Linked DNA regions of Homo sapiens: all the other regions are linked to region 1. Evidence: fine-mapped expression QTL. A gene starts in region 1. Each other region holds a variant in brackets. All regions are shown on one strand. Distances are from middle to middle.

Evidence for each region. PIP is the estimated chance that this variant, and not a neighbour inherited with it, causes the effect.
Region 2: its variant is the best candidate, but not a certain one, in a credible set for the expression of SEPTIN9 in whole blood (INTERVAL, PIP 0.80).
Region 3: its variant is the best candidate, but not a certain one, in a credible set for the expression of SEPTIN9 in left ventricle (GTEx, PIP 0.59).
Region 4: its variant is the best candidate, but not a certain one, in a credible set for the expression of SEPTIN9 in whole blood (TOPMed, PIP 0.61).
Region 5: its variant is the best candidate, but not a certain one, in a credible set for the expression of SEPTIN9 in whole blood (INTERVAL, PIP 0.63).

Annotation. Positions count from the first base shown.
Region 1 is chr17:77,279,310-77,283,424 of GRCh38, forward strand. It overlaps SEPTIN9 (septin 9), which reads left to right and starts at 2,190. Exons shown (of 12, transcript NM_001113491.2): 1 at 2,190-2,245. The coding sequence starts at 2,227. It overlaps SEPTIN9-DT (SEPTIN9 divergent transcript), which reads right to left and starts at 2,588. Exons shown (of 3, transcript NR_136503.1): 1 at 2,303-2,588. RefSeq lists an enhancer at 272-919 and a silencer at 2,521-2,684.
Region 2 is chr17:77,368,644-77,372,758 of GRCh38, forward strand. All of the region lies in intron 2 of SEPTIN9 (septin 9), which reads left to right. Among named protein-coding and RNA genes, the nearest start is that of MIR4316, 26 kb to the right of the region's middle. The variant G/A (reference allele first, on the strand shown) is at 1,895.
Region 3 is chr17:77,383,035-77,387,149 of GRCh38, forward strand. All of the region lies in intron 2 of SEPTIN9 (septin 9), which reads left to right. Among named protein-coding and RNA genes, the nearest start is that of MIR4316, 12 kb to the right of the region's middle. RefSeq lists enhancers at 1-50, 51-588. The variant A/G (reference allele first, on the strand shown) is at 2,277.
Region 4 is chr17:77,334,359-77,338,473 of GRCh38, forward strand. The region is part of intron 2 of SEPTIN9 (septin 9); the gene reads left to right. Among named protein-coding and RNA genes, the nearest start is that of SEPTIN9-DT, 55 kb to the left of the region's middle. The variant C/A (reference allele first, on the strand shown) is at 1,893.
Region 5 is chr17:77,496,934-77,501,048 of GRCh38, forward strand. It overlaps SEPTIN9 (septin 9), which reads left to right. Exons shown (of 12, transcript NM_001113491.2): 11 at 382-433; 12 at 1,590-3,660. The coding sequence ends at 1,725. Among named protein-coding and RNA genes, the nearest start is that of MIR4316, 100 kb to the left of the region's middle. RefSeq lists enhancers at 1-43, 44-591. The variant T/C (reference allele first, on the strand shown) is at 2,382.

The DNA.
Region 1 (4,115 bases):
AAAAATGTGTAGAACCCTCATTCCCAGCCTTCCCTCCCTCTCTCTTGTCCTTCTTTCTGATTTCTTGGAATCGGAAGGAAAATTCGGATATCCAGGAACCATCACACAGGAGGCACCCATGTGATGTGTCCAACATCACTCCACGCAGGTGTCCTTGGGTCCTGGGTGCCCAGGTTCCTGTGAATTGTGACCCCAGGCAGAAGCGTGAGCATCCGCAGAGGAACCCACCTACCCAAAGCCAGGGAACAGCCAGGGCTGGCATCCTCAGGGTGACTGTGCTCCAGGGCACCTCTGACTTGTGCTGAGTAAAATGGACAAAGCCAGCAATGCACCCATAACCCAGATTCTTGAGACACCGCTGGACTTTGGGAATCCCAGGCATTAGGCTCGTGGCAGTGTCATCATGGCTAGGCTGGGGGCAGTGTCATCATGGTGCTTGCTGGCCAAGTCAGGACACGGCCTAAGCCGGAATCTGCTGGTGCTGGTACAAGCGGTGAGTGGGCGTGTGGGTGGGGGTTGCGGTTAGGGTGTGGACATCCCAGAATCCAGGACGCTGTTCACAATTCGTCCATACTCCCTGCTCCCCTCCCTTACAGCACTTCCCTCCCGAGGCCTCCTGAGCCTCTAACCCCCAGATAAGGAAAGGGGTGGACTCAGTTGAAGTCCAGTGTCCACTCCGGTCCAATCAGCTCTACCTGGGGTGAGGGGAAACTCCTCTGGCTGGGCTGCTCCCTCTGCAGGGCTGTGGCTGGACAGATTACTCAAGAAAGGAAGCAGGTGGGCCGGAACGAACCCACGGTGCCACATAGGCCTCCGTTCTCATGCATATAAGTTTCCCACACTCAGGCAGGAAATGAAAATGCTTCTTGGACCCCCAAGGAGAGTAAAGGAGAGGGGAAGAGGAGGAGGATTTTTCGGGGCTGTTAGTGACACTTTCAGCCTCCTGTGCATTTTTGGGAGGGCTGCAGGAGAAGGCAATGCTGCGCCCCTACCCAGAACTAGCGAGCGCTTCCCAACTGGCCTCCCGCCTTCCTCTCGTCCTCTACGGCCTCCATTGGCAGCTGTGCAAGGGCCCGGCCCTGCCTCTGTCTCTCCACACTCGCTGTGATACCTCAGGCCTCCCAGGCTCCGCCACGCCCTTCCCTCTTTCGGGAACAGCTGCCTTCCATCACCTTGGCTGCCTGGCTAATTCCTGCTCATTCCTTAAAACCCTGTTTTGATTTCGCCTCAATAAAACTCTGACACCACCCTCCAGTCATAATTAGTCACTTCTTCCTCTGTACGTTGGAAACACCGCTTTATCGTGGAGACTTTAAGGATATCCAAGTAGAGAGAATTCTTCCGTGCAAGTTTTGCATCCTCTCACCACTGCCTGCGTTACCCGAGTTGTAAAGGGCGGCTCCCTGTGTCTGCCCCGCTGCACCGATACACCGAGCTGCGCACGGTGCCCAGCGCAGGGAGAACAAATGATCATCTGTCCAACGCGCCCATTTACAGGTGAGGAAACTAAGGCTCCAACTCAATCGACGCACTCTGCCCTTTTGATTACCAGAAAAGTAGCAGGACAGGTGTCCTGTCCCGCCCTACCCCGGCCCACTAAGCCGGCACCCCGGCTCCGACCCCCGGCTGTGCCCGGCGCCGCCGCGGTGCCCGGCGCCGCCGCCTCGCCCGGCGGGGCCGCCCGGAGCGCCCGCACCTCCGCCCGCTTCCACCTGGCCGGGCCCGCCCCGCCCGGACTCGGGACTGGGAAGTGCGGCGACTCCCGGAACCAGCCATTGGCGCCAGCGCGGGGAGCTGGGGGTGCAGAGCTGCGGGCGCGGCGGGCCACGCAGGCGGCCCCCACCCCCGGCCTGGCCTGGTCTGGTCTGGTCTGCGCTGCCGCGCGGGGGCGCCCCCTCCCAGGCCCGGCGCCCGCCAGCCCCGCTCCGCCAGGTGCAGCGCAGCGCAGGGGTGGGCGGGGGTGGGGCTCGGCGCGCACGTTCACGGGGCGGGGAGGGGGCGGGTCAGGGGCGGGACCACAGCCGGCTGGGCCGGGGTTCTATGCGCATCTCCGGGGAGGGGCGGGGCGGGGGCGGGGCCGGGGCGGGGCCCGGTCGGTGCACTCCAGACGGCGGGCCGCCCCCTCTTCCCGCCTTCCTACTACCGGCCCAGGATTAGCGCCCTGGGAGCGCGCGCCCCGCTGCCTCGCCGCCACACTTTCCTGGGAGCGGCGGCCACGGAGGCACCATGAAGAAGTCTTACTCAGGTGGGCTTCGCGCCCGGGGTGGGGAGGGGTCGGTGTCCCGGGACCAGCGCTGCTCACCTGAGTGCCTGCGGCCGGGAGTGGCGAGGCGCCCCCGGAGCTGAGCGAGTCCCCGCGGCGGGCACACTGCAGGTCGAGTTCCTCCCAGGACAGGGCCGCTGTCGGGCCGCTTTCGACCTGAGCCGACCGTCCCCTGCGCTGTCTCCAGCCCTTGCTCGAGTGTCGGAGGGGCTGCCCTGGGGGACGCTCCCTCTTCCTCGCCCCTTGCACCCTCGCAGGAATCGCTGACTTTCCAGGTCGGCCGGGTGCTTTGGGTCCCTGTGCGTCTGTGTGGGTGAATGGGGTCGGGGCTAGGTGGAGGGGTGTCCTTGGGTTCAGCCTCTAGGGCTGGTGGTCCAGGCCGCAGCATCCTTTCTTCGGATTCTCTTCGGTTTCTCCTCTACTTAGTGGGGCACGGGACGGCCTCCAGATGGGACCGTCCAGCAGCGCCCAAACTTGGCGACTCGGGTTCACGTTTTGCGCTCAGGACGCCGCCCGCGGCTGACATCCTCACTCCACCCTAGCAGGGCCCGCCTTAAGTAGGCGAAGGGGGCCTGACTTGGGCCTCACCATGAGCCGGTTCAGGAGCTTTCATTTCATAAGAGGCTCCCGCTCTGGCACTCTGAAGTTCCATTTCACAGATGGGCACACCGAGGCCACAAGGGCAGGTTAAGAGAAATCCAGATCTTCATTATTTGTCTTTTCCTTCCTTTTTTTTTTCCTTTGTGGTTTTCTCCAAAGGATCCAGGCAGGCAGGATCCTTTGTCCTCCTCAGTCCTCAAATTATAAATAGCGTCTCCTCTTCTAAATCTAGAAACCGTTTGTTTAATGTCCCTCCTTTAATTCATTCAGATAGAAAGGTACCTGCCAAGGATCCATGAATTAATTTTTATTGATAGGAGAACAGAATCATGGGCCTTAGTTGGAGGTGAAGGAGTCATCGGGGCCATCCCCCTGCCTTTGGGCCATTGTCGGTTTCCTCTGGCTTTCCATATTTAGGAACCAAAATGAGTGATAAAGTACCTTGTCTCAAAGAGGATTACTCAGAACTTCCCCGAAAATACCCTTCTGGGTCAGTAGCTTAGAATTTCAACTTTCACCCGGTTGTTGCGAACAAGATGGCCCTCTACGCACCCGGAGCACAGCTCTGTCAGGAGCGTGGGTGGGTTGGTGTGCTGGTGGGCGGGAGCGGGCTTCCAGGTGGCACATGCTTGGTTTTGGCACCGGGGCTTCCTCCCCAACATGCTCCAAATACTTGAGATTGTTGTGGGGATCGCGCGGTGCATGGCCCTTTCCAGGGGATCTCTAGCCCGCCCAGGGAGGGCCCTTTGCCCTTGGTTTCTTACACTTTACCTCCCACTGGTGGGTCCAGACAGTGGGGGTGACCGGGGTCCTCCCAGGTCGTGGGTCCTGGGTTTTTTCTGCGGAGACCCTCCTGCACAGATGCCGGAAGGGCCCTGAGGCAGGCTTGGAGTCTCTGCACCTGCGGCTTACTGGGAGGTGGGGAGACCATCACTTGTCCTTTTCTCCTCTCCTCCACACACACCTACCCCACCCCTCACTGGGTTTCTTTTTTTTTTTTTTTTTTAAAAAAAAGGACAGAACCTTTTGCAGTAGGTGGAAGTAGAGTTTGTGGAGTGAGCAGGAACCAACTCTTGTACAGCAGCCTCGGTGCCTCCTTGTGTTTACCTAAAGGGGCAGGCCCCTCTGAGGATGGGGGAAGGGAGGGCTCAGACCATTTCTGGTTTGCTCCCTGCTTGGCAGTGGCCCAAGGTGTGCTGGGTCACTGTGTTGCAGTTGTATGGAGTGGGACTGGAGGGGGCTGATGGTGGGG
Region 2 (4,115 bases), 89 kb after region 1:
ATCACAGTAAAAATGCATTGCTCTATTAGAAAAATGATAGATTTTTACAATATGAATTAAATTACAAGTTATGAAGGAAAAATTAAGCAAAACATTAAAAAATTACTTATAAGTAATTATATTTAAAACAAAAGATAATAAATACACAACTTTCATCACCTCTTAGGTTTTTTGCAACATTTAACTATTGTCTGTCCTGTTGCGGTTATGTTCTTGAGGTTGTATTTGTATGATAGAAACACTATATTCGTGGTGACTAAACATCTCTTCTCAGTCTCACCTCCAATGATGTCATACAGATAACTTGAAATTGGCCGGCTGGGCACGATGGCTCATGCCTGTAATCCCAGCACTTTGGGAGGCCAAGGCAGGCAGATCATCTGAGTTCAAAACCAGCCTGGCCAGCAGGGTGAATCCTCATCTCTAGTAAAAATACAAAAATTAGCCAGGAGTGGTGGCGGGTGCCTGTAATCCGAGCTACTTGGGAGGCTGAGGCAGGAGAATCACTTGAACCTGGGAGGTGGAGTTTGCAGTGAGCCAGGATTGCCCCACTGCACTCCAGACCGGGTGACAGAGTGAGACCCTGTCAAAAAAGAAAAGAAAAGAAAGAAATTGGCCAAGGCAGGAATATTGACACCACAGGAATAGGCAAGCGCTACAAATCGGGAAACTGAGTGTTGTTGCTTTTGCTGGCCCCAGGTGGCCGGTTGTTGACCGTTAACTGGCACACTACTGGAGGAGGGAGGTTCAGACTGATTCGCAGAGAGACTAGAGGTAGAAACGCACCATGGTTTGGATGCTGAGGGTGAGGGAAAGAGAGGAGTCAACAGTGGTGCCCGGAGACTTGGCTTGAGCAACTAGGTGGATGGTAGCACCGTTTCCTAAGATGAGGGGCTGTGGGAACTTGAGGGGCTGTGGAAGGCTCTGCCACTGACGGACCCAGGGCTCGGCAGCTCTGGGAGGCCTACTTTGTGTCAGGCCACGCAGAGATAAGACCATCTGGGCCCTGCCCTTGGGAAGTCTCTGTCTATGAGGACACAGCCTGCCACCTAATGGGGTGTCCCGTCTGGAGCCTCAGTGTTGCTGGGAGAAAGCCCCTCACCTTCCTTCGCTCTCCGAGCCTCTTTTGCTTCCCTGCCAGCTGAGCCTCTCCATGGAGGCTGTGCCTGGAGGGGGGTCATGGATATGGATGTGTGCGCCAAACGCTGCTTCCTCGTGGATTTCCTCCCCACTCCGTTCCCACGCTTTGTAAGCTTCATTTCCCCGGGGCCTGACCTGTGGGGTTTCTCTCCAGACCTGCTCCTTCCCATTTCCAGAAAGGCGTGCAGGGGTTTCCTATGGCTCTCTTCCCTGTCCCCATCCCCCTTCCCTTGGGACAGTGATCTGCTGGACGGGTGGGCTACCCACAGGGTTTGTGATTGCTTAGACATCTTTGCTGTATGAAGCTTTGACCTCAAGGCATGATGCAGATGGGAATAAGGCACGAGTTTCTCCTGGCTGCTGTAACAACTGTCGAAACTGGGTGGCTTATAGCAAGGGGAATGTGTCCTCTCACAGTTCTGGAGGCCAGAAGTCTGAAATCAAGGTGCCAGCAGGGCCAGCTTCCTCTGAAGACTCCAGGGGAAAACCTTTCTTTGCCTCTTCCAGCTTCTGGTGGCCCCAGGTGTTCCTTGGCCTGTGGCTGCATCACTCCGGTCTCTGCCTCTGTCTTCACAAGGCCTTTTTCTGTGTCTCTGTACTTTCTTTTCTGTCTCTTAGAAGGACACAGCATTGAATTTAGGGCCCACCTTATCTTGAGATCCTTGCCTAAATTCTTTCTGCAGAGACCCTTAAACAGAATCAGGTCACATTTGAGGTTCCAAGTGGGCATATCTTTGTTTTGGGGGGGATCACC[G/A]GCCCACTGTAGGTCTCGTTGTGCACTGAAGACGCAGGCGGTCCCTTTGGCCAGGCCTGCAGTCGGTCTTGCCTTCTTTTGTGACCGTGGAAGAATGCACCTTGCTGGATGCACAGGCCTTTATAGTTCTTTTGTTCTTGCCAAATTTCAGCTCAGTTTCCTCTCTGCTGCCGGCGTGCATCTTCTCTGCCCAGTGCCCCTTCTGGGACTGTGTGTCCAGGCCCTGAGGCCCTAGAAAAGGGGGGTGGAGGGCCTCCTCACTATCCTGTAGCAATGAGGCCTCATTAAAATCCTGGAGCCCCAGACTGGACCCAGCCCTTAGCTATGATCAAAGGACAGCTCGGGATATGATTAAAGGGCTAGAGAAAGATGATTTAGGCTGAGAAAGAGGAGGCCAAGGAGCAACTGGATTGTCCTTGAATGTGGAAAAGGTAATTATGACTTGAAGGGTGGTGCCCAGCTGTTTCCCATCTCCTCTGAGGACAGGAAAAAAAAGGAAATAAATGATGTACAATTAGAGCAGTTGGTTAGATACGAGGGTGAACTTCCTGGCTGGGAGTATGGCCAAGCCCTGATTTGGGTTTCCTGAAAGAGCTCGGGGAACCTCCTTACCTGGAGGTTTCTAGGCCTGGTCATGTGGCTCTGAGTGATTACATTGAAGGGGCAGTGGCTGGGGCTGGAGCCGGTGGGCTCTGAGCACAGTCACGAAGGCATGCGCACTTTCTGGCTGCTCTCCTGCCATTGTCCCTTGGGTTCCCATTTTGGTGAGGCGTGCACCCTGGCGGCGCTCCCCAGGGAACTAAATATGTTTGCTGCACTGTGCGTGGAGATGGAGAATGTACAATTGGCTGACCCTGTGCTAATCTGGTGGAACTCCATGCCAGCCCTGGGAAAGAACAATTGCATGGGTGTGTCCACACTCACCAGGTGCTTTTTAGAAAAACACTCGAGAATAATGCTGTGGCTTAGGATGGCTGTTGTGCCGGACCCGGCATCTTCCCAGGGGGGCTGTGTTGTTGGGCTGAGTTTCTTAGGTACTGGACCCCCAAATCCCCAAATACGGCGTGGACAGGTGGCCCAGTAGGGGCTGGACTATCCGATAGGCCCAGGTGCTGGAGTTCAGACAAGACATACCCTGGCCTGGCGTGGAAGATACGGGGTGCTATTAATGGCAGCAATGGCTGCATTTCTGAAACCCGGGCTCCCAGGCCGACGAGGGTGTGCACGCATCTGAAATGTCTGTGGTTTTGCAGTTCCCATGTCCACAAACTCACTTGGTTGAAAATAGTTCAAAATATCCAAAGCATGAGGGAGGGAGTGCCTGCTTTTCTTAAAAAGGAAGGACTTGATTTCATCTACTTAAAAAGCCACCCAAACCTAGAACATTTTCCGCAAGAGACCCCCTGCCCCCCGCCTCTCCAGAATGGCTGGAGAGTCTCAGCACTCCTGCACATTTGGGATATTTCAGAGGGGGTGGGGAGGGGCAAGTGGGCAGCGAGCGACCTCAGACCCAGGATGAGCTGTCAGGCGCTCCCCGGCCACACATTCAAGGGACCGGAGTGCAGTTGTAGCGTTGCGGCCTGCTGCTTCGGGGGTGGGGGTGTTGTTCCATGCTGTGAATTCTCACATGGCCCCTGACTCTGGGCAGAGGCCGAGGGTCTAAGGGACGGGGTGACAGGGAGAGCATGCAGGAGTGGGTTTCTGGCTTTCCAGGGCGAGTGGAAGAAGCGCCTCTCTCTCTTGTAGGTGACAGACCTGGGGGGCCCTTCTTGAGGATGAGAGCCTGTTGCTTCTCAAGTTCTGTGTCTAACCCAGGTCCCCAGGTCTACCCCAGCCCCTCGGCCCTGCCTGCCTTGTGGATGATATAGTTTAAGGGTAGAGACCGCTGGCCTGGAGGGAAGGCTAGGCCTCAGGTTAGGGCCCAGAAGGGAGGGAGAAGCCCTTGGGGCAGCTCCCTTTCTGCTCACTCACTGCCTAGCTCCTTCCTTCACACCTTCCTTCGGAAACGTCTGCTCCTGACAAGGTCTACTTCCTGCTCTCAGGAGGCCCTTATTGTGGAGGAAGGGAGGCGTCGCCCGTCCCTGGCTTCTCTGACAGCCGTGTTCCATCCCCGCCCTGTGCCCCTTCTCCCGGACAGTGCCTTCTCCAGGGCTCACCCAGGAGGGTGCAGCGGTGGCCCCCGGGGCGGTGGTCGTGGTGGGGGTGTTAGCTGCAGGGGTGC
Region 3 (4,115 bases), 100 kb after region 1:
ACCTCACTCAAATATTTACATCTCTCCTAATATTTAAATGATGAAGCAGGCTCCTGCACACAGCTGCCCTGGAGCCAGCTGTTGCCTGCCCTACCCTCCCTCTCTCCCTCCCTCTTTCTTTCCCTCCCTCTTTCTCTCCCTCCCTCCTTCTCTCCCTCCCTCCCTCTTGCATTCTTTGTCTCTGACCCAAGTCCAGGCCCTTCCAGCTGTTCTCTCCTTACCCACAGGCACCTCCTGTGACTGAGCTTCTCCTTGTTATTTTTCATAACCATTTCCTTTAATTGAGCACCTCCTAGGTGCCAGGCCCTGGGCTGGTACTTTGTATACAAGGTGTCTTTTAATCCCCACGAGAGCCCAACAAGGTAGATTGGGCTGCTGAGGCTCCAGCGCTGGAAGGCCGGCCCGGGTCCTCCCAGTCCGCACCTGCATCCATCCATCACTCCCCCACTGTGGAGACCTGTTCCCTGGCCCCTGGCTGAGCACGATGGAAATCTCTGTCTACTAGTCCTTGGAGAGTGGGGATGGCTGAGGGTCCCGACCCTGGGGTCTGACGGGGGCTGCCTCTGCCCCACTTCAGCCTGGCTGCTCTTCCACTCAATGACTGAGTTTGCAAAACCAGAATAACAGTGCTACCTGGCTGGTACTTTGGGTGGCTGGGAGGCGTGGGAGAGGGTGCACGGAGGGGCTGAGCGAGGTGTCAGCATCGTGGGGATCTCCGAGGGTAGCCTTCCCAGGCCCAGGGCGGAGTGTAGGCAGAGGGCGCGATGGCCCAGCGTGCCGGCTCACATCTGGCCTTGCCCTTGCCCACACGGCAATGTGGGGGAGTCATCAGCCTCTCAGTGCCTCAGTTTCCCATCTGTGCAATGGGGACAAGAGTAAATCACTGTCTTCAGGTATGGTAAGCACTCATACACATTGACTATTGCAGAATGAACACAGTGAGCCCTTCTTAGGCTTCTACTACATGCCAGGCAGGGTGCCAGGCCCTAGTGGAGAGGGGACAATGATGGGCAAGCTGGCTCCTGCCCTCAAGGGCTGTCGAGCAGGGAGGAAGGCGGCGGCTGCCCTGACTGTGACCCGGAGTGGGGTGATTCGCAAAGAGGCTGGCGGGAGGCTGGCTGGGGGCTGGCTGGGGGCTGCTCCCTCTCCTGCCTGTGTTCCGTGGCAGGGTATTAAACTGGCTTTTTTCATGGATTTCCGAGGCCCTGACTGTGGGACCTCGGGCAGGTTTTGGGACCTTGTGACTTTGTTCCCGCTTGTCATTCAGGCCTTTGTCCTCAGCAGTGCCCAGCACACGGCGACTTCTGCATGTCCTTCAGTGTGTGACTGACCCTGGAGCTGAGACTTGGCAGCTGAGGCTGGACATTGTCCTTGGATAACTCCCGGGGAGGTGGGGGCAGGGTGGGGCTGTGAGCTGGCAACTCCGAGTCCCTAGCAGCCTCCGAATGGAGGCTTTCCTCTTGTAGGATTCTCGGGGAGGAAGGAGGGGATGGGGGAGATGAGGCTTGTGAGTCTTCAGGAGGGCAGAGGTTCACACCTGCAGCGCCCCAGAAACACTCCGGGGTGCCCAGGCTTACCCAGCCCTCCTGAGCCAGAACCACCAAGAGTTGGGGACCAGCAGTCCATTTTTTAGCAAGATCCAGAAATGATTCTCCTGAACAGTCCGAGCCAAGAATGACATATCTGGAATCAGAACATCAGAACTACAGAGGAATCGAGAGAACGGGCCCAAAATGTGTAGGGACCTCAGCCACATGGCGCCACATGGAGGAAAGCACCCAACATCATCACTGTATGAACCTGTTTAAACACACACACACACACACACACACACACACACACACACACACACACTCCCCAGTAAAGAGTGGAAAGACATTTGTCAGAATATTGATGGAAGTTACCTGGGTTGTGGGTTTATAGATTTTTTCCCTTTGTTTTTGTGCATTTTGCAAATTTTCGGCTTTGTGCCTAAATTCCTTTTACAGTCAGGAACAAAGCAATAGATGTTATTTTTTAAAGTTCATGGGCTCGTGCCCGTAATCCCAACACTCTGGGAGGCTGAGGCAGGAGGATTCCTTAAGCCCAGGAGTTTGAGACCAGCCTGGGCAACATAGGGAGACCCCCACCTTTTTTTTTTTTTTTTTTTGACAGAGTTTCACTGTGTCCCAGGCTGAAGTGGCGGTGGCACGTTCTTGGTTCACTGCAACCTCTGCCTCCCAGGTTCAGGTGATTCTCATGCCTCAGCCTCCTGAGTAGCTGGATTACAGACACTC[A/G]TATTTGTAGGATTTGAGAATCCTACAAGAGGAAAGCCTCCATTCGGAGGCTGCTGGGGACTTGGAGTTGCCAGCTCACATATTTTTTAGTAGAGACAGGGTTTCACCATGTTGACCAGGCTGGTCTCAAACTCCTGTCCTCAAGTGATCCATCCATCTCGGCCTCCCAAGGTTCCAGGATTACAGGCGTGAGCCACTGCGCCCGGCCATGGGAGACCCCCTCTTAAAACAAGAATAAAAATAAAAATAAATAAAAGTTTACTGTCAAAAAGAAAAACACATCACCCAACCTAATCTCCCCCTAGGATTGAGAGATGAGGAAGCAGAGGCCGGAAAGTGTCACATTCCCTGGTCGCTGGCAGTCAGGGGACCTGAGGCCTGGGCTGGTTTTCTCGTGCTCCAGGCCTGGGGTGTCAGGTGGAGCCCCTGCTTTGCCCAAAGGTCTAGGTGCCTCTGCCAGCACTGCTTGCTTCTGCATTTTTGGCCACAAGGAATGTGGGCCAAAGGCAGGGTCCTTGACCTCTGCCCAGGAGGGTGAAGTGGGCTGGTCCTCCTTGTCCCTGCTCCAAGGCCCCTGCGGCTGTGCCTTTGGAAACTGCTGGCCCGAGCTAGTGTGCGGAGCTGGGACAGACCTCACCGTGGCCCTCGTGGGGTCATTCCATGTCCGGGCTGGAAGGGATCTTTCGGTCCAGCCCTTCCTGTTCCTCATCAGGAAACTGAGACCAGAGAGGTCATCTGCCTGGCCCGGGGTGGGGTGTAGATGGCGCTTGTGACTCCTGCATGCCACGTGCAGACAGTCCCTCAGCTGTGGGCTTCCCACGCAAGCAGCCATGCTGGGGATAACTTGGCTGAAACCTGCGATTTAATGAAGAGAAGAATGACTCCTCCTGCAGCCCTGTGCCCCACAGGCTCCCTCCTGCCCCCACCCCTCCTGCAGAGGGGCCTCATGCTGGTGGGTGGGTCCCTGTTGCTGCAATGGGCCCAGGCAGTTTCTGGGCAGTGGAGGCTTGGCTGTCTTCCTGCCCAATGTCCCCTGTAGCCCACGCTGTCCGGGAAGGGCGGGGAAGCACTCAGCCACTGGGGACTTCACAAGATGGGTATCTGGGAGATGCTGATTGGCAGGCCAGGCTCCCGTGGCCCACAGGCAGGTCAGAGGTCACAGTGCTGAGCTGGGCTGAGTTGGCAGCTCAGGGCAGTGGGGGTGGGGGTACCTTGCTCAGCCATGGGCCTCTCTGGCACAAGGGTTTGGAGTTTACTGTAAACAACTCCTTCAGTTTTTCCTTCTCTCATAGGCCACCAGCAGAATTGAGGGGCCCTCTGTTGATGAGGTGTGGCCTGGGAGGGGCTAGTTGTCTGTCCACCTGATCCTTGCGGACAGGTGACCACAGGCTTCCTGCCCCAGGGGGCTGGGGGAAAGATCGGGGAGGCCTCTCTGGCTTCCCCACTTGGAAGGAAAATACGGGCATAGGGGAGACACTTTACAGGGACACATTTCAGCCAGTACCCTCTGGCTGTGCTGGGGGCACAGTGCCTGCCCTGCCCACAAGAGGGGTCAGTTCTCTCCAGGATTTAACTTCAGCCTTCAGTGCAGGGCAGATGAGCACTCAGAGGCCCAGAGGACTCATATCACGAGAGAGAAGCTGTGACCACACAGGCACTGAAGGTTAAGCAGAAGAGTGGGACACACGGGTGACCTGAAAGTCCCAGGGTCAGTGTGGTTAGCCCCAGATAGCTGGGGAGCTTTGGGTACCAGGCTTAGCAGGGGAGGAGGGCCCCCGTGACAGTTTGCTGGGGCTGCTGCAACAAAGCCCCACGAACTTTGGGGGCTGAAGATGGTTC
Region 4 (4,115 bases), 55 kb after region 1:
TTGCAGTGAGCCGAGATTGCACCACTGCACTCCAGCCTAGGTGACAGAGCAAGACTCTGTCTCAAAAAAAAAAAAAAAAAAAAATGTTGTTTCATATGTTTTTTATATATTCTGGATATAAGTCCTTTATCAGATATATGTATCATAAGTTTTTTTTTCCACATTGCTCCTTTCCTTTTGGTTTTCTTAATGATGTTATTTAATGAGCAAGAGTATTTTGTTTTCATAAAGTCCAATTTATCAACTTTTTCCAGTTTCGATTTATGATTTTTGTGACCTATGGAGGAAATCTTTGCCTACACTAAGGTCAAAAGAAGTTCTCTTATTTTCTAGAAATTTTATAGTTGTATATTCTATGATTCCTTTTATTTTTTAATTTTTTAAATTTTTACATTTTTTAACCTATTATAGCCGTCAGGATGTTGTATGATCCATTTTAAATCAGTTTTTGTATTTGGTTTGAGGTCAGGGTTAATTCTTGTTTTTCTATACTCATATCCAGTTCTAGCACCGTTTGTTGAAAAGACATACCTTACTCTATTGAATTACCTGACACCTTTGCTAAAAATCATTGACTGTATATGTGGCCCTATATTAGTATATGTACGTATATACATGTAGGCCCTGTGTTGACTGTATGTGTGGTCCTATATTAGTATATGTACGTATATACATATTGGCCCTATGTTGACTGTATATGTGGTCCTGTATTAGTATATACATATCAGCCCTATATTGACTGTATATGTGGTCCTGTATTAGTATATGTACATATATACATGTAGGCCCTATGTTGACTGTATATGTGGTCCTATATTAGTATATGTACATTTATACATGTAGGCCCTGTGTTGACTGTATATGTGGTCCTGTATTAGTATATGTACATATATACATATAGGCCCCGTGTTGACTGTATATGTGGTCCTGTATTAGTATATGTACATATATACATGTAGGCCCCATGTTGACTGTATATGTGGTCCTGTATTAGTATATGTACATATATACATATAGGCCCCGTGTTGACTGTATATGTGGTCCTGTATTAGTATATGTACATATATACATGTAGGCCCCATGTTGACTGTATATGTGGTCTTGTATTAGTATATGTACATATATACATGTAGGCCCTATGTTGACTGTATATGTAGTCCTATATTAGTATATGTACATATATACATGTAGGCCCTATGTTGACTGTATATGTAGTCCTATATTAGTATATGTACATATATACATGTAGGCCCCATGTTGACTGTATATGTGGTCCTGTATTAGTATATGTACATATATACATGTAGGCCCTATGTTGACTGTATATGTGGTCCTGTATTAGTATATGTACATATATACATGTAGGCCCTATGTTGACTGTATATGTGGTCCTGTATTAGTATATGTACATATATACATGTAGGCCCTATGTTGACTGTATATGTGGTCCTGTATTAGTATATGTACATATATACATGTAGGCCCTATGTTGACTGTATATATATATGTGGTCCTGTATTAGTATATGTACATATATACATGTAGGCCCCGTGTTGACTGTATATGTGGTCCTGTATTAGTATATGTACATATATACATGTAGGTCCTATGTTGACTGTATATGTGGTCCTATATTAGTATATGTACTGTATACATGTAGGTCCTATGTTGACTGTATATGTGGTCCTATATTAGTATATGTACTGTATACATGTAGGCCCTGTGTTGAGACACTATTGTGTTTTCTTGATATTTTGTCCATTCCTTTGCTGATGCCACATCTTGATTAATGTGGCTTTACAGTAAGTCTTAATATAAAGTCTCTCAAATATCTAAAATATTACTTTGAATATTCTAGGTCCTTTGAGTTTCCTTATAAATTTAAGAAGTAG[C/A]TTGTTGATGTCTACAAAAATGCAGTGTGAATTTTGGTTGAGATTGTGTTGAATCTGTAGATCAATTAAGGAAGAATTGGCATTTTAACAATATTGAGTCTTTTGTATAGATGGTATATCTCCGTTTTAAAGGTCCTTTTGTATTTCTTTTATTTCTCTACTGAAAAAAAATCTCTACAGAATTACATTGTTTTGTAGTTTTCAAGAAAAAGATCTTGCATGCCATTTGTTAAATTTATTCCTAAGAATTTTACTTTTGGCACTATTTTAAGCTGAAATAGATTTTAAATTTCATTTTTAATTATTTGCTGCTAGTATGTAAAAATACAATAGATTTTTGTATGTAAATCTTATATCCTATGATCTTTTCCAAAGTCATTTATTACTCTGGTAATGGTTTTGTAGGTCTTTTAGGATTTAAATACATAGTTTTACTTCTTTCTGATCTTGATGCCTTGTTTTTTTTTCTTGCTTTATTGCACTGGTTAGAGCTGCCAGTTCAGTATTGAATAGTAGTGATTAGTGGACATCCTTGCCTGTGCCAAACTTATAATGTTAACTTTAGATTTGTCATATATGACCTTTGTCAGATTGAGGAAATTCCCTTCTATTCTTAATTTGCTGAAATTTTTTAACATGAATGGGTATGATTTTAGTAAATGCTTTTTCTGCATCTATGGAAATGATCATTGTTTTGTCTTTTATTCGTTTAATAGGATAAATTACAATGATTGATTTTTGCCCCCCGTTTTTTTTTTTTTTTTTTTTAAAGAAACAGAGTCTCACTCTTGCCCAGGCTGTAGCACAGTGGTGCCATCGTAGCTCACTGCAGCCTGAACTCCTGGACTTAAGCAATCCTCCCACCTCAGCCTCCTAAGTAGCAGGGACTATAGGCACATGCCACCATGCCAAGCTAATTTTTAATTTTTAAAATTTTTTGTACAGATGGGGTCTCATTGTGTTGCTCAGGCTGGTCTGCAATTCTTGAGCTTAAGCAATACTCCCACCTCTGCCTCCCAAAGTGCTGAGATTACAGGTGTGAGCCACTGTGCAGGCCTGATTTTTTAATATTGAACCAACCTTGCATTTCTGGAAGAAGTCCAACTTGCTTATGAGATATCATCCTTTTTATATATTGCTAAATTTGATTTGCCCAGTTTTTAAGGATTTTTGCGTGTTGATTCATGAGGGATATTGGTGTGGTATTTTCTTTGTTTGTTAGTTTGTTTCGGTAATGTCTTTGTCAGCCTCATTTTGGCTTCATAAAATTAGTTTGGAAGTGTTCCCTTCTCTTTGTTTTCTGTGTTTTCATAAGGTTGATGTTGTTTCTTCCTTAAATGTTTGATAGAATCCACCAAGAAAACCGTCTGGACCTAGAATTTTCTACTAGGAAAGGTGATTGTTTGTTTTTAATCACAAATTCAATTTAATGTATAGAAAGAGTTATTCAGGTTTTTTTACTTCCCCTTGTCTTACTTTTGGTAAGTTGTACTTTGAAGGAATTTGTCCCTTTCAGGTAAGTTGTTGAATTTACTCATTTAAAGTTGTTCGTAATACAAGCATACCTAGGGTTTGCTTCCAGACCTCGGCAATAAAGCAAATATTGCAATAAAGCACGTCACACAAACTTTTTGGTTTCCCAGTACATATAAAAGTTATGTTTAGGCCAGGCATGGTGGCTCATGCCTGTAATCCTAGCCCTTTGGGAGGCCAAGGTGGGCGGATCATTTGAGGTTAGGAGTTTGAGAACAGCCTGGCCAACATGGTGAAACCTCATCTCTATTAGAAATACAAAAATTAGCTGGGTGTGGTGGCACATGCCTGTAGTCCCAGCTGCTTGGGAGGCTGAGGTGGGAGAATTGCTCGAACCTGGGAGGTGGAGGTTGCGGTGAGCTGAGATCACACCACTGTACTCCAGACTGGGTGACAGGGCGAGACTCCATCTCAAAAAAAAAAGAAAAAAGTTATGTTTACACTATACTATAGTCTATTAAAGTGTATAAGATCATTATGTCTTTTTGCTAAAAAATGCTAATAATCATCTGAGCCTTCAGCAAGCCATAATCTTTTTCTTGGTAGAAGGTCTGCCTCAATGTTGATGGCTGCTGACCAGGTGGTGGTTGCTGAAAGTTGAAGGTAGCTGTGGCAGCAGTTTCTTTGTTTCTTTTTTCTTTTTCTTTTTTTTTGAGACAGAGTCTTGCTCTATTGCCCAGGCTGGAGTGC
Region 5 (4,115 bases), 220 kb after region 1:
CTGGGACGTCCTGCTCTCCCTGGTCACCCCAGTGGTGCGGGGGCCCACTGCCCTGGCTTCTCCACTGTGGCTTCCTTCCATGCTCCTATTTGGCCTGGTCACTGTGCCATCTCCCATTAGCCAGGAACTTTCTGGAGAGCAGGAGCTGAGCTGTCCAGGAGCAGGAGCTGGTGCTGGTCACTCCAGTATCCCCCAGACTGAGGGCAGTGCCAGGTGTCCTATACTCAGCTGCAGAGCAGGTGGTTCCCCTGCCCTCCTGCCCATGGGGCTGCCCTCAGACTCTGCTTTTGGCACCAGCATTTCTGGGCAGGGGGAGAGAGGTGGGGTCCGGGCAGAGTTTCTCCACTGGGACATTAAAGCCCCTCCTGTCTCCTCTCCTAGTTGAAAACACCACACACTGTGAGTTTGCCTACCTGCGGGACCTTCTCATCAGGTGAGAGACAGGGTGCTTGGGTGGGGCTGACGGCTTCACCCCTAAGAGGGCCCTACAGCGGGTGGGGGCAGTGGGTGTGGGGCCGAAGCCCTGGGCAGAGTGGGTGCCCCCTGCCACCTGCCTGCCCTGCCCTCGGGAAGATCTTGGAAGCCCATCTTCTGAAAAAGAAAACCCACTGGGAAATGAAGCAGGCAGTGAAGATCCTTTTCAACCCCTGCGAAGTTGGCTGGATGGGAAGGCTGAGCTTTGATCCACTGTGGTCTGGCCCGTTAGAGCTGCCCGGTGGCCACTAAGGGCCCAGTGAGGCCTCATGTGCAGGCCCTGCCGGCAGCGTGGGGCGTCTCCAGCTCCGATCCCACTGGCCTCTGACCCCTACCCCTTTCACCTGGCTGAGGCTTCTCCTTGTTTCCCTTGAGTCCAGGCAAGGAGGGGAAGCCCTGATGGAGAGGGTGCTGGGTGGGTGGTCCCTGGAGTGTGGGCCCTGGCCTGGGCAGGTTCTTCCTCAGCAAGCAGCTGGCATGGATGATGGGAATGTTATCAAGAGGAGGGGCCTCCAGGTTGGCGGGGGCAGGGGTGGGGGGATTCCGGGAGCCGTTCTGCCATTGTGGGGATACTGGGCTTTCCAACCTCCCTCCAGATTATTCCTCCTGAGCTGCAGAGGAATGAAAATCCGAGCCCAGGACTTTTTTTTCCTGGGGACAAGGGCAACCCAGCCCTTTGCCCCAGGCCACCTGCCTGCCACAGGCCATAGTCCTGGAGGCCGGTGGTCACCCACTGCTTCCACCCTGCCAGCACCCTGGACACCGGCCTGGAGCAACAATGCTCCAGCCCTGTCCCTCTGAGTCTATGCACTGTCCCTGGGCCCTGGACCCAGGGCCATAGGGTGGACCCAGAGGGAGACACATGCACTGGAATATGTGTGTTCTGACCGAGTCTGGGCTTACCAGGGGGACTGACCCTTCCCCCAAAACGTGTACCAGATCTGGTCCAACATGGTGGGCCTGGGGGACCCCATGGGGAGCCAAGCAGTCGGGATGGGGAGTGGGGGTGGGGGCAGGCGGGCCTGAGTCCGAGGCAGGCCGAGCAGGGCCCCTGCCCCGCTGCCCCCACCCCGCTGCGCCCACCTCACTGACCCGCCCGCCCCCCACCCCCACAGGACGCACATGCAGAACATCAAGGACATCACCAGCAGCATCCACTTCGAGGCGTACCGTGTGAAGCGCCTCAACGAGGGCAGCAGCGCCATGGCCAACGGCATGGAGGAGAAGGAGCCAGAAGCCCCGGAGATGTAGACGCCACCCTGCCCACCCCCGGGATCCTGCCCCCAAGTCATTTCCGTCCCCCCCCAGGCCCTCCCACCACCCCATTTTATTTTATATGATTTTCTCCATTTGTCATCGTTCCCCACCCCTTCGACATGCTGCCAGGAAACAAGGGAAGGGGCCTCCCTCCGAGTGAGTCAGTGATGAGGCCGCGGCCTCCCCGAGGTTGTGGGGAGGCTGCACTGGAGCCACAGGCAGGGGTGAGAGCACCCACTGAATTGACATGACCCTCTGTCCCCAGGCCTGGCTCCCCGAGGGCTCAGAAGAGCAGCTTCGGTGTGCAGATCATCCGTCTGTGTGGGGTTCTCAGTGCCGGAGGCCTTGGGGTGGGGGCCAGGCCTCGCACTTGCAGAGGAGCCCAGTGGGCTGCACGCTCCCCTCCATCCCCATCGGCCCTGTCCCCTGGAGTGTGTCAGAGCCCAGGGGAGAATGCAGCCCACCAGGAGCACCTGGACCCCCTGCCCGCCACATGGTGTGGCCATCACTCAGCCCCTACCCCTGCCCTGCTCCTAAGGGTAGAAAACTCCAGGGTCCCCTGCCACCGACTGCCCAGCCACTCCAAGCCCCCTGGCAGCTGCCCCTCCTGGAGCAGAAAGTGCCTTTATCTCAGCCATCCGCAGACTGCT[T/C]GGCCAGATGCGGGGACAGGCTGGAATGAGGGAGGCGTCTTCATCTCCCTGCCATCCCCCTCTCACGCCACCCCCGCCCCCACCGGGCTGCAGGTGCTGCTGATGCGCTGGGATCTGATTGAGGATAAAAAGGAAGGAGAGATGACCCCTACCCCCTCATCCCCCAGTTTTGAAAAGGTCTAAGCAAGTGAGTCTGGTGGAGGAGCTGAGGGAGGGAGCCATGGAAGGTGCCAGAAGGAAGGTTGGCGGGGGCACGTGTGGGCCGTGGCTTGGGCTGGTCAGAGTGGCGTGAGCTGCCCGGCGCCTGCCCTGCCCAAGTGACCAGGGAAGTGTGTGTGTGTCCATGTGTATGCGTGTCCGTCTGTCTGTCTAGTGTCTGGGTTTGGCCCAAGACTGGGCTGTAGTTACATTAATGCCCAGCCAGCCACCCCTGCCACTCACCCTTCCTGGCCCAGGCCTTGCTGACTCTCTGAGCTGGGGAGGTGGGAGGCCAGGCGAGCCTGACTCTGTTGATCTACCCGTGCCTGGGCCCCTCCCCTCAGAGCCCATGGTAACGAACCCCTAGAAAGGAGAGAACGGGCGTCAGGGGTGCACAGTCCACAGCTGAAGAGCAAGGTTTCGTGGCAGCACGGCCCGGCCCCTCACCCTCTGTCCCCACGAGGGGACCCATGGGGGCTGTCTTTGCAGGGCACAGATGACCAAAGTCCCTTCCTGCTTCCTGTTACCTGTCTTGCTCCTGGGGAGAAAGAGGGGCCTGATGAGACTCCACTCAGGTGCACACATCACCAGGTGCATCTGCAGGCACCGGGCTGGCTGCTTGCAGCCAGGAGAAGGTCAGCGAGAAGGAGTGTATGAGTGTGAGTGTGTGTGCATGGAAGTTGGGGCACTGGGCGTCTGACTCCCTCCCCACCCAAGAGAGGAAGGACCCCTCACCACCCCCACTGGTGAGACAGTTTACTTTGCCAACTTGCCATGTTTTTGCCAAAACCAAGATTTTGAAGGAAATGAGTGGCCAGCGCCAGGGCCCAGGCCATGTGGCCTGCCCAGCCTCAATGTCACTTGGTGGCGGGGTGGGGTGGGGGTGGGCAGCAGCATCCCAGCCTTGAGATGCTTCACTTTCCTTCTCTGTAACCAGACTTTGAAAAATTGTTCGTTTCATCAGGCTCTGTTCCTCAATGGCCTTTTGCTACGTGCCTCCCGAGAAATTTGTCTTTTTGTATAAATGACAAAGTGTTGAAAATGTATTTCCTGAAATAAATGTTTCAAATGCAGAAACCCAGAAGGCTCCTGAGTGAGAATGTTTTTTCTGCCCCTGAAGTGCAGTTCTTTGGGCCTCGGGACAGGTTGGGGTCAGCTGCAGGTGGGCAAGAAGCATGGGCAAGAAAAGGTAGGCCGGGCGCGGTGGCTCACGCCTGTAATCCCAGCACTTTGGGAGACTGAGGCAGTTGGATCACAAGGTGAGGAATTTGAGACCAGCCTGGCCAATATGGTGAAACCCCGTTTCTACTAAAAATACGAAAATTAGCTGGGCATGGTGGTGGGCGCCTGTAGTCCCAGCCACTCGGGAGGCTGAGGCAGAAGAATCGCTTGAACCCCGGGAGGTAGAGGTTGCAGTGAGCCAAGATCATGCCACTGCACTCCAGCCTGGGCGACAGAGCAAGATGCCATCTCAAAAAAAAAAAAAAAAGAAAAGGTAAGGCCAGGTCAGATCTCGAATTCAGACTCCCAAGATTT